Regions from separate parts of the Homo sapiens genome. Here region 2 is linked to region 1. A link means that fine-mapping ties the variant in region 1 to the expression of a gene that starts in the linked region. Tissue or cell type: whole blood. Region 1 holds a variant in brackets; the other region holds the start of a gene. All regions are shown on one strand. Distances are from middle to middle.

Region 1 (8,101 bases):
AGGCCAGGCATGGTGGCTCACGCCTGTAATCCCAACGCTTTGGGAGACCAAGGCAGGTGGATCACAAGGTCAGGAGTTCAAGACCAGCCTGGCCAAGATGGTGAAACCCCATCTCTACTAAAAAAATACAAAAATTACCGGGCGTGGTGGTGGGTGCTTGTAATCCCAGCTACTCCGGAGGCTGAGGCAGAGAATAGCTTGAACCTGAGAGGCGGAGGTTGCAGTGAGCCGAGATCGCGCCACTGCACTCCAGCCTGGGCGACAGGGCAAGACTGTCTCAAAAAAAAAAAAAAAAAGAAAAGAAAAAAAAAGAAAGGACTGGGCACAGTGGCTCACACCTGTAATCCCAGCACTTTGGGAGGTCAAGGCAGATGGATCACTTGAGGTCAGGGGTTCAAGACCAGCCTGGCCAACATGGTGAAACCCTGTCTCTACTGAAAATGCAAAAATTAGCTGGGCGTGGTGATGCGAGCCTGTAGTCCCAGCTACTTGGGAGGCTGAGGCAGGAGAATCACTTGAACCCAGGAGGTAGAGGTTGCAGTGAGCCAAGATTACACCACTGCACTCCAGTCTGGGTGACAGCGAGACTCCATCTCGAAAAAAAAAAAAAAGAAAGAAAGAAAGAAAAGAAAAAAATTAGCCCAGTGCAGTAGCACACACCTGTGGTCCCAGCTACTTGGGAGGCTGAGGTGGGAGGATTGCTTGAGCCTGGGAGTCAAGGCTTCAGTGAGCCGAGATTGTGCCACTGCACTCCAACCTGGGTTACAGAGCAAGCCTTGTCTCTAAATAAATAAATAAATAAATAAATAAATAAATAAATAAAAGAATGGTCCCCATTTCCTCATCACATGCATTCAGCACATCCCTCCTGCAGTCTTGGACCCTGGCTGAGTTTCCTCATCTGACACACAGCAATGACAATCCTCCCTTGAAGGGTCTGTGGTGTGAACACCCAGTGGGACACACCCGTGGGGCTTGGGAAATGCTGATGGCTTAACCAGCAGTCCCAGCTTTTCTGCACTGAACAGAAAGCCTACTCGTCCCACCTCACTCTCCTTCATCCAAGTTGACCAGGTCCTCCAAGTTTGGTTCAAGTCTTCTTTTCCTCCAAAAAGGCCAGTTCAGTTCCCCTCTGTGAACTGGAGCTCCTACAGGGCTGGACTTCCACTTGCCTGCCTCCATCAGCAGCTCCTACCATCCTGTGGGAATGCAGAGCTAGGGGCTCCAGGAGACCCAGCTACTAGGACATTTGATGAGGAAGTGGCTGGGTCTGAGGGCTCATTCCCACAGAACATGACTCCTCCTGCCCCAGAGCTGTTTTTGACACGGGATTATCTTTGACCTTCAGAAACATCCTTGCTGCCAACTCTAAAAAAGCTCAGAGTTGGCCAGTCGCGGTGGCTCATGCTTGTAATCCTAGCACTTTGGGAGGCCGAGGCAGGTGGATCACGAGGTCAAGAGATCAAGACCATCCCTGGCCAACATGGTGAAATCCCATCTCTACTAAAAATACAAAAAAATTAGCTGGGCATGGTGGCATGCACCTGTAGTCCCAGCTACCCAGGAGACTGAGGCGGGAGAACCACTTGAACCGAGGAGGCAGAGGTTGCACTGAGCCAAGATCGTGCCACTGCTCTCCAGTCTGGCGACAGAGCGAGACTCTGTCTCAAGGAAAAAAAAAAAAACAAACAAACCCAGAGTTGGGCTTCAGGACATACACTCAGCTGGAGGTTTTAGACCCCATCTTACCCTGTTTCAGTGATTGACCAAATGAATGTTCAGGGCCAGATGACCTTCCCCAAAGGCACAGGAAGGAATAGCTAGCAGGAAATACAATTTGTTAGAAGATACCACTAAGGGAAGAGAAGCCAGAACCTACCAGTTTGGCATCTTCCTACTCTGGGGTCTGAACTGCATCAGCCACTTACTTCAAGCCTCAGTTTTCTCATCAGTAAAATGGGAATAATGATACCGATTTCATCCTACATGAGAATTAAATGATATATGCAAAGTGCTTTGCTTTGCATTTATCAGATGGATCCCCTGTTTCAATAAGAACTGTAGCTACTATTTTTTGTTCTTTTTTTTTTTTTTTTTTGAGATGGAGTTTCACTCTTGTCGTCCAGGCTGGAGTAGAATGGCGCAATCTCAGCTCACTGCAACCTCTGCCTCTCGGGTTCAAGAGATTATTCTGCCTCAGCCTCCCGAGTAGCTGGGATTACAGATGCCTGCCACCGCACCCGGCTAATTTTTGTATTTTTAGTAGAGACGGGGTTTCATCATATTGATCAGGCTGGTCTCAAACTCCTGACCTCAAGTGATCCGCCTGTCTCAGCCTCACAAAGTGCTGGGATTACAGGCGTGAGCCACCGTGCCCAGCCTCAGCCTAATTTTTTGTATTTTTAGTAGAGTCAGGGGCTTCACCATGTCGGCCAGGCTGGTCTCAAACTCCTGACCTCAGGTGATCCACCCACCTCGGCCTCCCAAAATGCTGGTATTACAGATGTGAGCCACCACACCCGGCCCATTTTTTGTTCATTTATGAAGTGCCAGGCCTTGAGCTAAACACTTTGCATATATTATTATGAAGTGACATAAATGAACAAAAAATTCATTGACAAGGTGGGAGGGGAGTGTGCGGAAGTGGAGAGGCACAAACGCAGAGTTTGCTTAGCCAGAGGTGGGCAGGCGGTGAATAGCTAGAGTAAAATCACAACGTCCCAAGTGTGGTGCTAAGCAGTCTACATACATTATTCCATTTATTTGTTTATTTTTATTTTGTTTATTTATTTATTTTGAAACTGAGTCTTGCTCTCTTGCCCAGGCTGAAGTGCAGTGGCATGATCTCGGCTCACTGCAACCTCTGCCTCCCAGGTTCAAGTGATTCTTCTGCCTCAGCCTCCCCAGTAGCTGGGACTACAGGCATGCGACACCACACCCAGCTCATTTTTGTATTTTTAGTAGAGATGGGGTTTTGCCATGTTGCTCAGGCTAGGATTGAACTCATGAGCTCTCAAGTGATCTGCCCACCTGGGCCTCCCAAAGTGCTGGGATTACAGGCATGAGCCACTGCACCCAGCCCATTATTTCATTTAAATCTCAGCTTCTTCCTCTGTCAAAAGTAGTGGTTTTGAACAGAAGCTTCCCAAGTCCTTTCTAGTTTAGTGAGTACTTACAGAATGTTTTAAATCTACAAAGTATTTTTCACTTTATAGCGCCGACCACTATTTAGTTCTGTGTTCTAATAGTTGTCAGTGGCTGCACAAGTAGATGCAGAACTAGAACCAGGGAGGATGGCTAGGTTTTTCCCCAGAGCCCAGTGGCAGGAGGCTCTGAGCCCGGTGGGCAAGAGCTGAAGGCCCACACGGGCCAGGGAGGGCACGCCCCTTGAAGGCAACGACGTCATGGAAGCTTGGCTCTGGCTTCCAGCCAGCATCCGGTTCTATCTGGTTGTGCTGGGGCCCAGAGGACTGGGTCTGGAACTCATCAGCCCCACCTGTCAGCCCTCCCCTGGCCGGCAAGCAGGGGCCTTTGGTTATCACTAAGGAGAGTGAGGCTGAGGGTGAGCTGAACATGGGCACAATCCAGAGGCCCAATATCCCATCCCCGCTGGACAACTCAGGGGAGGGGGCTGTGTTCCTCAGCCAGGCACCCGCAATTTGACTGAGCTCTATTATGTGACAGGCACCATGAAGTATGCAAAGACCTCATTTATTCATTCAGTAAATATTTATTGAACACTTAACAGTGTGCCTGGCCCTGAGCTGGTTCCAGAGAATCACAAAAATTCCTGCCTGGCCAGGCGCGGTGGCTCACGCCTGTAATCCCAGCACTTTGGGAGGCCTAGATGGGAGGATCCCTTGAGCCCAAGAGTTTGAGCCCAGCCTGGACAACATAGTGAGATCCTATCTCTAAATTTTTTTTTTTTGAGACACAGTCTCACTCTGTTGCCAGGCTGGAGTGCAGTGGTGCTTAGTAGAGACAGGGTTTCACCATGTTGGCCAGGATGGCCTCGATCTCTTGACCTCATGATCCACCTGCCTCAGCCTCCCAAAGTGCTGGGATTACAAGCGTGAAAAAAAAAATTTTAAGGTTAAAAAAGTAAAAAAAGGTCGGGTACGGTGGCTCACACCTGTAATCCCAGTACTTTGGGAAGCTGAGGCAGGTGGATCACGAGGTCAGGAGATTGAGACCATCCTTGCTAGCACAGTGAAACCCCATCACTACTAAAAATACAAAAAATTAGCCGGGCGTGGTGGCGGGCGCCTGTAGTCCCAGCTACTCTAGAGGCTGAGGCAGGAGAATGGCATGAACCCGGTAGGCGGAGTTTGCAGTGAGCAGAGATCGCCACTGCACTCCAGCCTGGGCGACACAGCGAGACTCCGTCTCAAAAAAAAAAAAAAAAGTAAAAAAAAAAGTCTGGCTCTATTCTAGTAGAAGAAGCTGTAAAATAAAGCAGAAATGTGATGGGAAATTAAAAAGAGAGTGATTCACTTTACATAGAGTAGTCAGAGAAGGCCCCTTTGAGCTGAGGGAGGAAAGTAGAGCTAGAAAGACCATTCTAGACAAAGGAAAAATTGTGCAAAGACCCCAAGGCAGGAAAATTTGGAGTGTTTGGAGAGTTGTAAGACAAATGGAAGGTGGGCACACACTAAGCTCTTCCTCAATAAATGCCAGCTAAAGAAATTAA[T/C]AAATGATTGTAAGGATTTCTGCTTCTAGACAAGATGATTTACATTCCCACCTAAAAACAACTAAAATACTCCCCAAAGTATGTGAAACATGGTTCTCAAGACATTGAAACCCATAAGATGAAAAATAGTGATTCCAGAGAGTCAGCAAACAAATGAGGAAAACCCTACAAATGCCCCACCTTGCTGCCTAAAGAAAATTTCCAGGGCCGGGCACCGTGACTCACACTTGTAATCCCAGCACTTTCAGAGGCCAAGGTGGAAGGATCATTTGAGACCAGCCTGGGCAGCATAGTGAGACCCTGTCTCTGCAAAAACAAATGTAAAACAGGCAGGCATGTGCCTGTTTTACAATGTAAATGTAAACAAATGTAAAACAGGTGGCAAGTGCCTGAAGTCCCAGCTATTTAGGAGGCTGAGGCAGGAGGATCACTTGAGCCCAGGAGGTCAAGGCTACAGTGAGCTATGATAATGCCACTGCACTCCAGCCTGGTAACAGAGCAAGGCCCTGTCTCCAAAACATTATATTAATAATATAATTTGGCCGGGCATGGTGGCTCACACCTGTGATCCCAGCACTTTGGGAGGCCAAGGCAGGCAAATCACCTTAGTTTAGGAGTTTGAGACCAGCCTGGCCAACATGGAGAAACCCCGTCTTTACTAAAAATACAAAAATTAGCCAGGTTTGGTGGCAGGCCCCTATAATCCCATGTACTTAGGAGGCTGAGGCAGGAGAATCGCTTGAACCTGGGAGGCAGAAGTTGCAGTGAGCTGAGACCCACGCCATTGCACTCCATCCAGGGCAACAAGAGCGGAACTCCGTCTCAAAAAAAAAAATGTACCTCTCCCTCTCCCCCTCCCCCTCCCCCTCTCCCTACGGTCTCCCTCTCCCTCTCTTTCCACGGTCTCCCTCTGATGCCGAGCCGAAGCTGGACTGTACTGCTGCCATCTCGGCTCACTGCAACCTCCCTGCCTGATTCTCCTGCCTCAGCCTGCCGAGTGCCTGCGATTGCAGGCGCGCGCCGCCACGCCTGACTGGTTTTCGTATTTTTTTGGTGGAGACGTGGTTTCGCTGTGTTGGCCAGGCTGGTCTCCAGCTCCTAACCGCGAGTGATCCGCCAGCCTCAGCCTCCGGAGGTGCCGGGATTGCAGACGGTGTCTGGTTCACTCAGTGCTCAATGGTGCCCAGGCTGAAGTGCAGTGGCGTGATCTCGGCTTGCTACAACCTCCACCTCCCAGCCGCCTGCCTTGGCCTCCCAAAGTGCCCAGAGTGCAGCCTCTGCCCGGCCGCCACCCCGTCTAGGAAGTGAGGAGCGTCTCTGCCTGGCCGCCCATCGTCTGGGATGTGAGGAGCCCCTCTGCCTGGCTGCCCAGTCTGGAAAGTGAGGAGCGTCTCTGCTGGGCCGCCATCCCATCTAGGAAGTGAGGAGCGCCTCTTCCCGGCCGCCATCCCATCTAGGAAGTGAGGAGCGTCTCTGCCCGGCCACCCATCGTCTGAGATGTGGGGAGCGCCTTTGCCCCGCCGCCCCGTCTGGGATGTGAGGAGCGCCTCTGCCCGGCCGCGACCCCGTCTGGGAGGTGAGGAGCGTCTCTGCCCAGCCACCCCGTCTGAGAAGGGAGGAGACCCTCCGCCTGGCAGCCGCCCCATCTGAGAAGTGAGGAGCCCCTCCGCCCGGCAGCCGCCCCATCTGAGAATTGAGGAGCCCCTCCGCCCGGCAGCCACCCCGTCTGGGAAGTGAGGAGCGTCTCCGCCCGGCAGCCGCCCCGTCCGGGAGGGAGGTGGGGGTCAGCCCCCGCCAGGCCAGCCACCCCGTCCAGGAGGGAGGTGGGGATCAGCCCCCCGCCCGGCCAGCCGCCCCGTCCGGGAGGGAGGTGGGGAGGTCAGCCCCCCACCCGGCCAGCCACGCCGTCCGGGAGGTGAGGGGCTCCTCTGCCCGGCCGCCCCTACTGGGAAGTGAGGAGCCCCTCTGCCCGGCCACCACCCCGTCTGGGAGGTGTGCCCAACAGCTCATTGAGAACGGGCCATGATGACAATGGTGGTTTTGTGGAATAGAAAGCGGGGAAAGGTGGGGAAAAGATTGAGAAATCGGATGGTTGCCGTGTCTGTGTGGAAAGGAGTAGACATGGGAGACTTTTCATTTTGTTCTGTACTAAGAAAAAGTCTTCTGCCTTGGGATCCTGTTGATCTGTGACCTTACCCCCCAACCCTGTGCTCTCTGAAACATGTGCTGTGTCCACTCAGGGTTAAATGGATTAAGGGCAGTGCAAGATGTGCTTTGTTAAACAGATGCTTGAGGGCAGCATGCTCTAAGAGTCATCACCACTCCCTAATCTCAAGTACCCAGGGACACAAACACTGCGGAAGGCCTCAGGGTCCTCTGCCTAGGAAAACCAGAGACCTTTGTTCACTTGTTTATCTGCTGACCTTCCCTCCACTATTGTCCTATGACCCTGCCAAATCCCCCTCTGTGAGAAACACCCAAGAATGATCAATAAAAAAAAAAAAAAGTAAAAAAAAAAAAAAAAGTATATATAAAAAAAGAATCAGCCGGGCGCGGTTGCTCATGCCTGTAATCCCAGCACTTTGGGAGACCAAGGCAAGCAGATCACAGGGTCAGGAGTTCGAGACCAGCCTGGCCAATATGGTGAAACCCCATCTCTACTAAAAATACAAAAATTAGCTGGGCGTGGTGGTGTGTGCCTGTAGTCTCAGCTACTCAGGAGGCTGAGGCAGAAGAATCGCTTGAACTTGGGAGGCAGAGGTTGCTGTGAGCTGAGATTGCGCCACTGCACTCCAGCCTGGGCAACAGAGTGAGACTTCGTCTGAAAACAAACAAACAAACAAACAAAATCTCCATTGGATAGGAGAGTATTACAAGAAATTAAAAAGAAAAAATTTTAAATAAAGAAAGAAAAGAAAAAAAATCCAGTACCTAACAAAGTAAAATTGGCAGTGTCTGACATCCAACAGAAATTAGCATGTATACAAAGAGACAGGAAAACATGACCCCTAAGAAAAATAAAAACCAATCAATTTAAATCTACTCAAGGTGAAGCATGGTGGCCCATGCCTGTAATCCAGCACTTTGGGACTTGAGGTCAGGAGTTCGAGACCAGCTTGGCCAACATTATGAAATCCCATCTCTACTAAAAATACAAAAAAATTAGCAGAACATGGTGACCCACCTGTAATCTCAGCTACTAGGGAGGCTGAGGCAGGAGAATCTCTTGTACCTGGGAGGTGGAGGTTACAGTGAACTAAGATTGTGCCATTGCACTCCAGCCTGGGCAACAGAGCTAGACTCCATCTCAAAGAAAACTATAGACTAATATCTCTTATCAATATGGATGCAAAAATCCTCAGCAAAATACCAGGAAAGTGGCCAGGTTGAGTGGCTCACACCTGTAATCCC
Region 2 (8,085 bases), 26 kb after region 1:
TGATATGGAGCATGACAGTGGGGGAGGCCTGGGGCACTGAAGAGATTACTAGAGGCTACACTACTAGGTCATAGCTGGGGAGACAGAGATATAAGTTCCTACCCTTCAGATGTCTGAAAGAGTTGTACACCCCAAACTCCTCTCTCTAGCCTCTTTCACATCAGCTTCTGGTCAGCACCAATGGGTACGCCTGACTACTCATGAAGGTGCGGGCTGGGTGGGAGCTTTGTGTTTATATGATCTCCAAATCCATGTGAGATTGGAGATTCTGCCATTTCAGGGGCCATAGGGGTGCACAGAGAGGGAAAAGACAGTTGTTGCCTCCAAAGTGCTTAAGGGCTGGTCACACATACAGGAAACTTTCTGAGGCATTAAGAATGCTCATATAAGAGGGCGGGCTCATGCCTGTAATCTCAGCACTTTGAGAGGCCAAGGTGAGCAGATTACTTGAGGCCAGGAGTTCAAGACCAGCCTGGCCAACACGGTGAAACCTTGTCCCTACTAAAAATACAAAAATTAGCCAGGTGTGACAGCGAGTGTGGTGGCAGGCACCTGTAATCCCAGCTACTCAGGAGGCTGAGGCACGAGAACTGCTCGAACCTGGGAGATGGAGGATGCACTGCACTCAAGCCTGGTGACATAGTGAGACTCCGTCTCAAAGAAAAAGAAAAAAAAAAGAATCCTCATATAAAGTTTGCCTATGAAGGCAAAAGAGAAAATAAACTGGAAATAATACAAATATCTAACAAGAGACAGGTTAAATAAGTAATGGCAGTCTAATAAGGGGTAAGCATTTACTACAAATTATGAAGAACTTAAGAAGAAATACAGGCTGGGTGTGGTGGCTCACGCCTATAATACCAGCACTTTGGGAGGCCAAGGTGGGAGGATCACTTGAGCCCAGGAGTTCAACACCAGCTTGGGACAACATAATGAGAGGCCAGTCTCTTAAAAAAAAAAAAAAAAAATTAGCTGGGCGTGGTGTTGCACCTGTAATCACAGCTACCTGGGAGGCTGAGGTAGAAGGATCACTTGAGCCCAGGAGTTCAAGGCTGGAGTGAGCTGTGATTGTGCCACTGCACTCCAGCTTGGGTGACAGAGCAAGATCTTTTTTCTAAAAAAAGAAAAGAAGGCCGGGCGCGGTGGCTCACGCCTGTAATCTCAGCACTTTGGGAGGCTGATGGGGGCAGATTACAAGGTCAAGAGATCAAGATCATCCTCACCAACATGGGGAAACCGTCTCTACTAAAAATACAAAAGTTAGCTGGGCGTGGTTGTGCGTTCCTGTAGTCCCAGCTACTCAGGAGGCTGAGGCAGAATAGCTTGAAACTGGGAGGTGGAGGTTGCAGTGAGCCGAGATCGCATCACTGCACTCCAGTCTGGCAACAGAGCAAGACTGCATCTCAAAAAAGCCCCCAAAACAAAAAAAAAAAAAATGAAAAAAGAAAAGAAATGTAGTGATGGGGGTCAGTTGTGGCCCCTGTGTCATTTGTCACCTTTTTGGGCCTTAGCTCTCCCATCTATGGAGAAAACAGAGACCAGAATGGAGAAGAAGGGTGACCAGAATTACAAGATGAGAGGCTCTTCTTTGAAAAATTCAAATTAACCATATAATGGCTGAGTTCAGAAATCTGGCCAGGCTCCTTCTCCTGGAAAAAGCATGGGAAAGGCAGGATCTTGAGGGAAGGGAAGATTTTGGATTGATTAGGGGGAGCGGGGGAGGAAGAGGAAGAGGAAGAGTATTCCTGGGCCAAAGTTAGAGACAAACCTGATAGGAAGACCTATTCTAGGGGAGGGGATGGTGATCAAGCCCACAGCCAGATTGGACTGAGGCCTGTGGAGGATGGTAGGGGTATCTGAGGGTTCCCAAGGTTGGTTCTATCTGGAGATGCCTGAGGCTGGAGGCATCTTAAAAACTCTGGGTAAAGGTCTGGCTCCTACAGGCAGCAGCTCCCTCTTCATAGGGCCTGAGCCAAGTGTTGGCAACAGGGCTGATGGGAAACCAGGGTGCTCTTGGCCTTGCCACCAGCAGAAAATGGTCCCCAGCCCACAGTAGGTGCTCAATAATTATTTACTAAAGGAATGAGTATATCATTGGAAAGACATTGCCCATCTCTAGGCCTCAATTTATCTGTGAGATGGCAGGTCAGGATGGAGATTATAATTTACTGGGAAGACTAAGCCACAGCACAGTGATCCTGTGGTGCTAGTCCTACCTAATTCAGGAGGTCGACACACAGAGGTTCTGGGGGCTCAGGCACTTGTCCACGGTCTGGGATCCTAACCAGTCCGTGACTGCAAATCCAGCTTTTCTTTTTTCTTTTCTTTTTTTGAGACGGAGTTTCGCTCTTGTTGCCCTGGCTGGAGTGCAATGGCAAGATCTCGGGTCACCGCAACCTCCGCCCCGTCCAGGAGAAGGGGCACTGAGGAGGGACCCAGTTCTCCCGCGGCTCTGCCGGATTCAGGCTGCAGCGCTTCCAGCGCTCCCCGAGGTGGGTGCGGGTTTCTACTGTGGCAGCAGGGCGGGCCCCCATCGGCTGGGTTTTCAAATAGAAGAGAAAACCGACCCAGAGGCCGCGCCCTACTGACCTGCGCGGGGGTGCGGGGGGAGTCACGACGACCTCCCCCACCTCCCCCAGCCTCTAGGCTATTACATCCGTCCCCAGCCTTCGGGCTCAGAATAGGAGGCAGGGAAAGGTGTGAGGGGCACTGAGGTCGGGGGAGGAGCGAGAAGACCCGAAAGCCAGGCGTGTTGAGGGCAAGGTGGGCAACAGAACCTTCTTGGTCATTCGAGGCAGCCCTCGCTAATGACCATTGGGGTCCCAACACTCGAATCCCCACCTAAGTCCTATTCAGATAGTGACTGGGAGTGGGAAGGGAGTTTGAGATCCTAAGTCCCACCCTCTGGGCTGGGAGCCTGAGGCCAGAGAGGGGAAGTGATTTCCTCAAGGTCACTCAGCAAAACAGCGCCCAGCCCGGGCCAAAGCTCAGGTGTCTCCCAACCCCCTCCCCCCGGCCATCACCCCCAGAACTCGGTCCCCCGGAGCTGAGGTCTGCGCGACTGGATTTAGGGGCAGAATGAGTGCGTCGGGAACCCCAAAACCCTAGATCAAGATACAAGGGGAGTCGACGGCCCGGAAACCTCGCTGCGGGTGCCCTAAGCGCGAGGCCGCCCGGGCAGGGCCGCCCAGGGACCGGGGCGCTGGGTGCGGGGCACGGGGCTCCACCTCCCGCGGGCTGGGGCGCGCAGCGCGCGGCCCCTTTAAGAAAGTTCGCCGGGCGAGTTCATCAAAGTTTAAAAACTCGCCGTGGAGAAGGGCGCGGGGGAAGAGGAGAGAGGGAGAGCGCTGACCCAGGCGAGAGAGAGGGGAAAGGCCCGGCCGGAGGCCGGCGCCCCGCGGCCGGGGCCGGGGCGAGCCCACGGTGGGCGGTGGGGATTGGCTGCGCGTTCCCCCGGAGACCGCGCGGCGGGCGGGGGAGGGGGCTGGCCGGGCCCCAGCTGAGGCCGGTTCCGGCCCCGCCCCCCGCCGCCGGCGCCCGCCCCCTCCCCCGGCGCCCGCCCCCCGCCGCCGCTGCCGCCGCCGCCGCCGCCGCGGCGCACTCGCCGGTCGCAGTGAAAAGGCGGAGGCGGCGGCCCCTCCGGCTCCCACTGCCTCCCCCGCCGCACCCCCTCCCCACCTTCCGCACCCGCCAAACTTGATGTGACCCTGGCCCGACGCGGAGGCTGCCCCTCTCACTGCCCCGTGGGTCCCCCGCCACCCGCTCCGCACCCGCGAGCGCACCGCTCCCCGCGCCCCTTCCCACTTCCCGCGGGGCCGGCGCCGCGCTCGCCCTCGCGTTCCTTCCCGCCGCCCCCTCCCCCGCACCATGAGCAACCTGAAGCCGGACGGCGAGCACGGCGGCAGCACCGGCACCGGCTCCGGCGCGGGCTCCGGCGGCGCCCTGGAGGAGGAGGTGGGTCTGTGGCCCCGGGACTTGCCGGGTGAAGCGCACGCCAGGCGGGCGCGGGAGAGGGCGAGCGGGGCCTGCCGCGCCTCGCGGGGCCGGGGTGGCCATCGCTCCCGGCGCCTTCCCGCCGCTGCCCTCTCGCCCGGGTAGGAGCGGCCCGTGTCCGCGGGCGGGAGCGTGCGGCCTGGACTGCCCCGCCGGACAGGCATTGTCTCCCCGCCCTCTCGGGCTCGAGGCGGGCCGCGCGCGCCGGCCGCCGTCCGGGCGTCCCGCGGTGGGCGAGATGCGCCGCGTCCGTTCCATGCCTGCCGCCCGCGCGCCCCTTGCTCCCCACCCCGTAGCCGCTCGCCGCCCTCCTCCGAGGCGCACCTCCTGCGTGGCCAGGACCCCGCCTCGGCGGCACGGAGCGGAGCGGGATTAGCACGGCCCGAGGGCGGCACCCTCACTCCACTGCCTTTTCCGCCCTGACCCCCTCCCCGTGACCTTGGAGGCCTGGGCCGGCCGGCTCCTCGGTTCCTGCGAGCTGTTGTCATGGGGGTGGGCGGGCTTTCTTCACAGCCCCAGAACCTGGGCTTTGGCAGAGGTGAGCCCACAATTTAATTAGTTTGGAAGATGACTAAAGACACTCAGTTCGTCCTTCTCCTCTCTCTGGGTTTGTCCTGGCAACCAAGCCAGGACCCCAAAGCTGGCCTGGGTGGGATCCTGCCAGGAGGGGCGAAATCATCTCGTCCACCGGCCATGTGCGAAAGGGAGGGAGTGTAAGGCGGCTCCGTGGAACCACCAGCAGCTGGGTGGTTAATGGATGGTAGGGAGGATGTGTGTGCGGGGTGGGGTGCTGGATAAAAGCCTCAAAGATATCAGTGAATAGGGACGAGGAGCTAGGCTGGCGGAGACAAGAACTGGAGTAGAAGGGGACAGGCTTCGCAGGGCCTCTGGCCTCTGCTGCGTCATTCTAGGGGTGAGAGAGCCTTCCTGCCCCTGCCCTGGCATGTTCTCGCCCAGGAAACCAAGGGCTGGTTATCCACCTTGGGCGCCCTTCCCCTTGGCCTGGGGGAGAAACCGCAGAGCCCCTGGTGTGGACTGGTGTTGCCTCCTCCCCTTGTGCTGGGGGTTGGTGCAGAATGGCGCCGGTGGCCCTCGGCTGGGCTGGGCTCAGCGCCGCCAGCTCCCACTCGGCTATTCAGAGACCTTCAGCCAGCCCCAGTCGATGACAATCTAGGTTTGGATCTCCACTTTTTGGCGGAAGGGGAAGGGAAGAATATACAACTGTGACATCTGTCCACTAATGACTTAAGTGTGGTGGATTTGTTTGGGCTCCAGAGGCCTTGCCCTCCTTGTACCTTGATGCCAAAAGGCCCTTGGCTTTGGGGATCTTGCCCCCATCCTGACTCTACCTGGCTGTTAGAATCTCCCTTGACAGTTGGGGAGGGTGACAGGGTTGCTAGCGTACTTGGAGTCTCTGCTTGGCCCCCTGCTGTGGGCTGAAACTGGGGGAGAGCATGTCTCCTATAAAGCTGAATGGGGACCCAGAACCCCACTTCTGCTAAAGGGTCTACTTCAGTGGGGACTTCACACTGCCCAAGAGGCTGGTACTGGGCAAACCCTCAGACCCACTGCTGTTGGGTGAGAAGGGTGACCCATGTGGCCATTCTAAGTCTTGAAAAAAGCATTTGAGGTTTTAGCCACTCCTTTCTAAGTACCTTTTCTGGGAAAGAGGGCAGGATTCTCAAAAAGTGGAATCCCTACTATTCCTCCTTGGGAGTTGAGATGGCCTGCGGCCCTATGGTGGTTCCAAATCCGCGCACTTGGAAAAGGGCATGGTGGGCTCGCGTTTAGCAGAGGTCCAGAACAAAGGGTTCTGAGGGTCTCCTGGAGCCCAGTGTCTGTCTGGTCTGGTAAGGGAAAGGGTTATTCCCCAAGCCCTGGCCTAGTCTTCTGAATAGTGGGCCATGAGCCCCTGTGCTGGTGGCTCCATCTTGGATTGGTGGTGTAGGCTGGAACTGGAATCCTCCCTGTAGTTTAGATGCTCCCTAAGCAGTCAGTTCTGCAGCCCCTAAGAGCAACCATCTGGAGAATCAGCGTTAGCAGTGGTTTACTCCCATGGCTGACACAGGTGGCTTCTTCCCAGTCAACTCTTGGAGACTAGCGAGAGCAAGCCCAGGAAACCAAGGAATGCTGCTGCACGCCGTAAGACCTCAATTCCTAAAGGCGCTGGGTCACTGGCGAAGGGAGTGTATTTTTCATGGTTCTGGGAGTTATCAGTGAGGTTGCTTGTCCTGAACTGCTTTGGATAGCCTTGACTCTGCCTGCTTGACTACCTTACCTATAGGCTTTATCCATGTCATACGCATTAAGTTTTCTTTCTGGACCCAGGGGTTAAGGATACAAGTGAAAATTCTCAGCCTAGGAGGTCGGAAGGACTTGCCAGGAAGTGGTGGTAGGTGAAATGCAATGATAGATAAAATAAAGGCATATGAGCACATGGTACCATGGTGCTCCTGAGAGATTAGAGGTCAGCCTTCCCTGAGATGTGGGTGAGTAGGAGGAGCAAGGTTAGACCTGTGGGGGTGGAAAAGGCATTCCAAGAGGAGGGAGTCGCATGTATAAGTGAGGAGGTAGGTTTGTGTAACCACATGGCTTGTTTGGGTAACTACCTGGAGTTTGCTATATTGCAGCAATATCAGGCAGTGCAGCCATAATGAGAGTTTGGAATTAGGGCAGTAATGACTGTGGTATTACGGGAAAATTGGCATTTTTCTGCCACTTGGGAAGATGTGTTCGAAGCTTTGATACCCTTTGAAAGCTAAGGAGGGCAGTAAGGAATTAAGGGGAGGAGCTGAATGTCCCTCCCAATCTAGAGGTTGTGCTGTCCTGCAGGTAAGTCTTGACTGGAGCTGGGGACGACATGAGGTAATACAGTACATGAACCTGTCCGGGGCAGGCTGTATCAGTGCTGCCAAACTTCAGACCTAAATGTCCTGTCTTAGTGATTCTCAAGGGATAACTGGGTAATTACCATGTCTCTGAAGAGGGGTAAATGTGATTTCTATTTTGAAAGTGGAGACCTTGCTTTCATAATACAGTTGCTGTTGGCCTTCCATTTCTATGGGTTCCCTATCCATGAATCCAGTTGTAGATAAAAAATACAATAATAAAAAATAATACAAATAAATATAACAACTATTTACATAGCATTCACATTGTATTAGGTATTGTGAATAATCTAGAGATGAGTTAAAGTATCCAGAAAATGTGCATAGGTTATTTTTTTATTTGTTTGAAGGGGAGTTTCACTCTTGTCACCCAGGCTGGAGTGCAGTGGCACAATCTCAGCTCACTGCAACCTCTGCCTCCCAGGTTCAAGCAATTCTCCTGCCTCAGCCTCCTGAGTAGCTGGGATTACAGGTGCCCGCCACCATACCTGGCTAATTTTTGTTTTTTAGTAGAGACAGGATTTCACCATGTTGGCCAGGCTGGTCTTGAACTCCTGTCCTCAGGTGACCTGCCCACCTCAGTCTCCCAAAGTGCTGGGATTACAGGCCTGAGCCACGGCGCCCAGCCTTGTTTTGTTTTTGAGACAGTCTCTGTTGCCCAGATTGGGGTGCAGTGGCGCAATCTCGGCTCACTGCAACCTCCTCCCAGGTTCAAGTGATTCTCCTGCCTCAGCCTCCAGGATTGCAGGTGCACGCCACCATGCCTGGCTAATTTTTGTATTTTTAGTAGAGACGGGGTTTCACCATGTTGGCCAGGCTGGTCTTGAACTCCTGACCTCAAGTGGTCCATCCAGCTCGGCCTCCCAAAGTGCTGAGATTACAGACGTGAGCCACCGTGCCCGGCCTGTGCATAGGTTATATACAAATTTTATATAAGAGACTTGAACATCTGGAGATGTTGATATCCAAGGGGGAACCCTGGAACCAATCCGCCTCAGATATCGAGGGACAACTAAACGGTACGAGGTGATACTAAGTTATAGTAATTTTTAAAAACCACTTTTTTGAGGTATGATTGGCATATATAAAGGTGTATATTTAGTGTATACAACTTGAAGAGTTTGGAGATTGTTAAAGTAATTTTTAACTGGGGGGCACCCCTGGAAGGGGGAGAGTGGTATTTATACTATTGGGTTGAGGGAGG

The links. PIP is the estimated chance that this variant, and not a neighbour inherited with it, causes the effect.
Region 2: RBPMS2 starts here. The variant in region 1 is fine-mapped to the expression of RBPMS2 in whole blood (INTERVAL, PIP above 0.99).

Annotation. Positions count from the first base shown.
Region 1 is chr15:64,797,522-64,805,622 of GRCh38, reverse strand. No RefSeq gene overlaps it. Among named protein-coding and RNA genes, the nearest start is that of PIF1, 24 kb to the left of the region's middle. RefSeq lists an enhancer at 5,459-6,361. The variant T/C (reference allele first, on the strand shown) is at 4,691.
Region 2 is chr15:64,771,102-64,779,186 of GRCh38, reverse strand. RBPMS2 (RNA binding protein, mRNA processing factor 2) reads left to right here and starts at 3,598. Exons shown (of 8, transcript NM_194272.3): 1 at 3,598-3,954. The coding sequence starts at 3,868. RefSeq lists enhancers at 2,045-2,890, 2,891-3,737, 7,546-8,047 and a silencer at 3,173-3,422.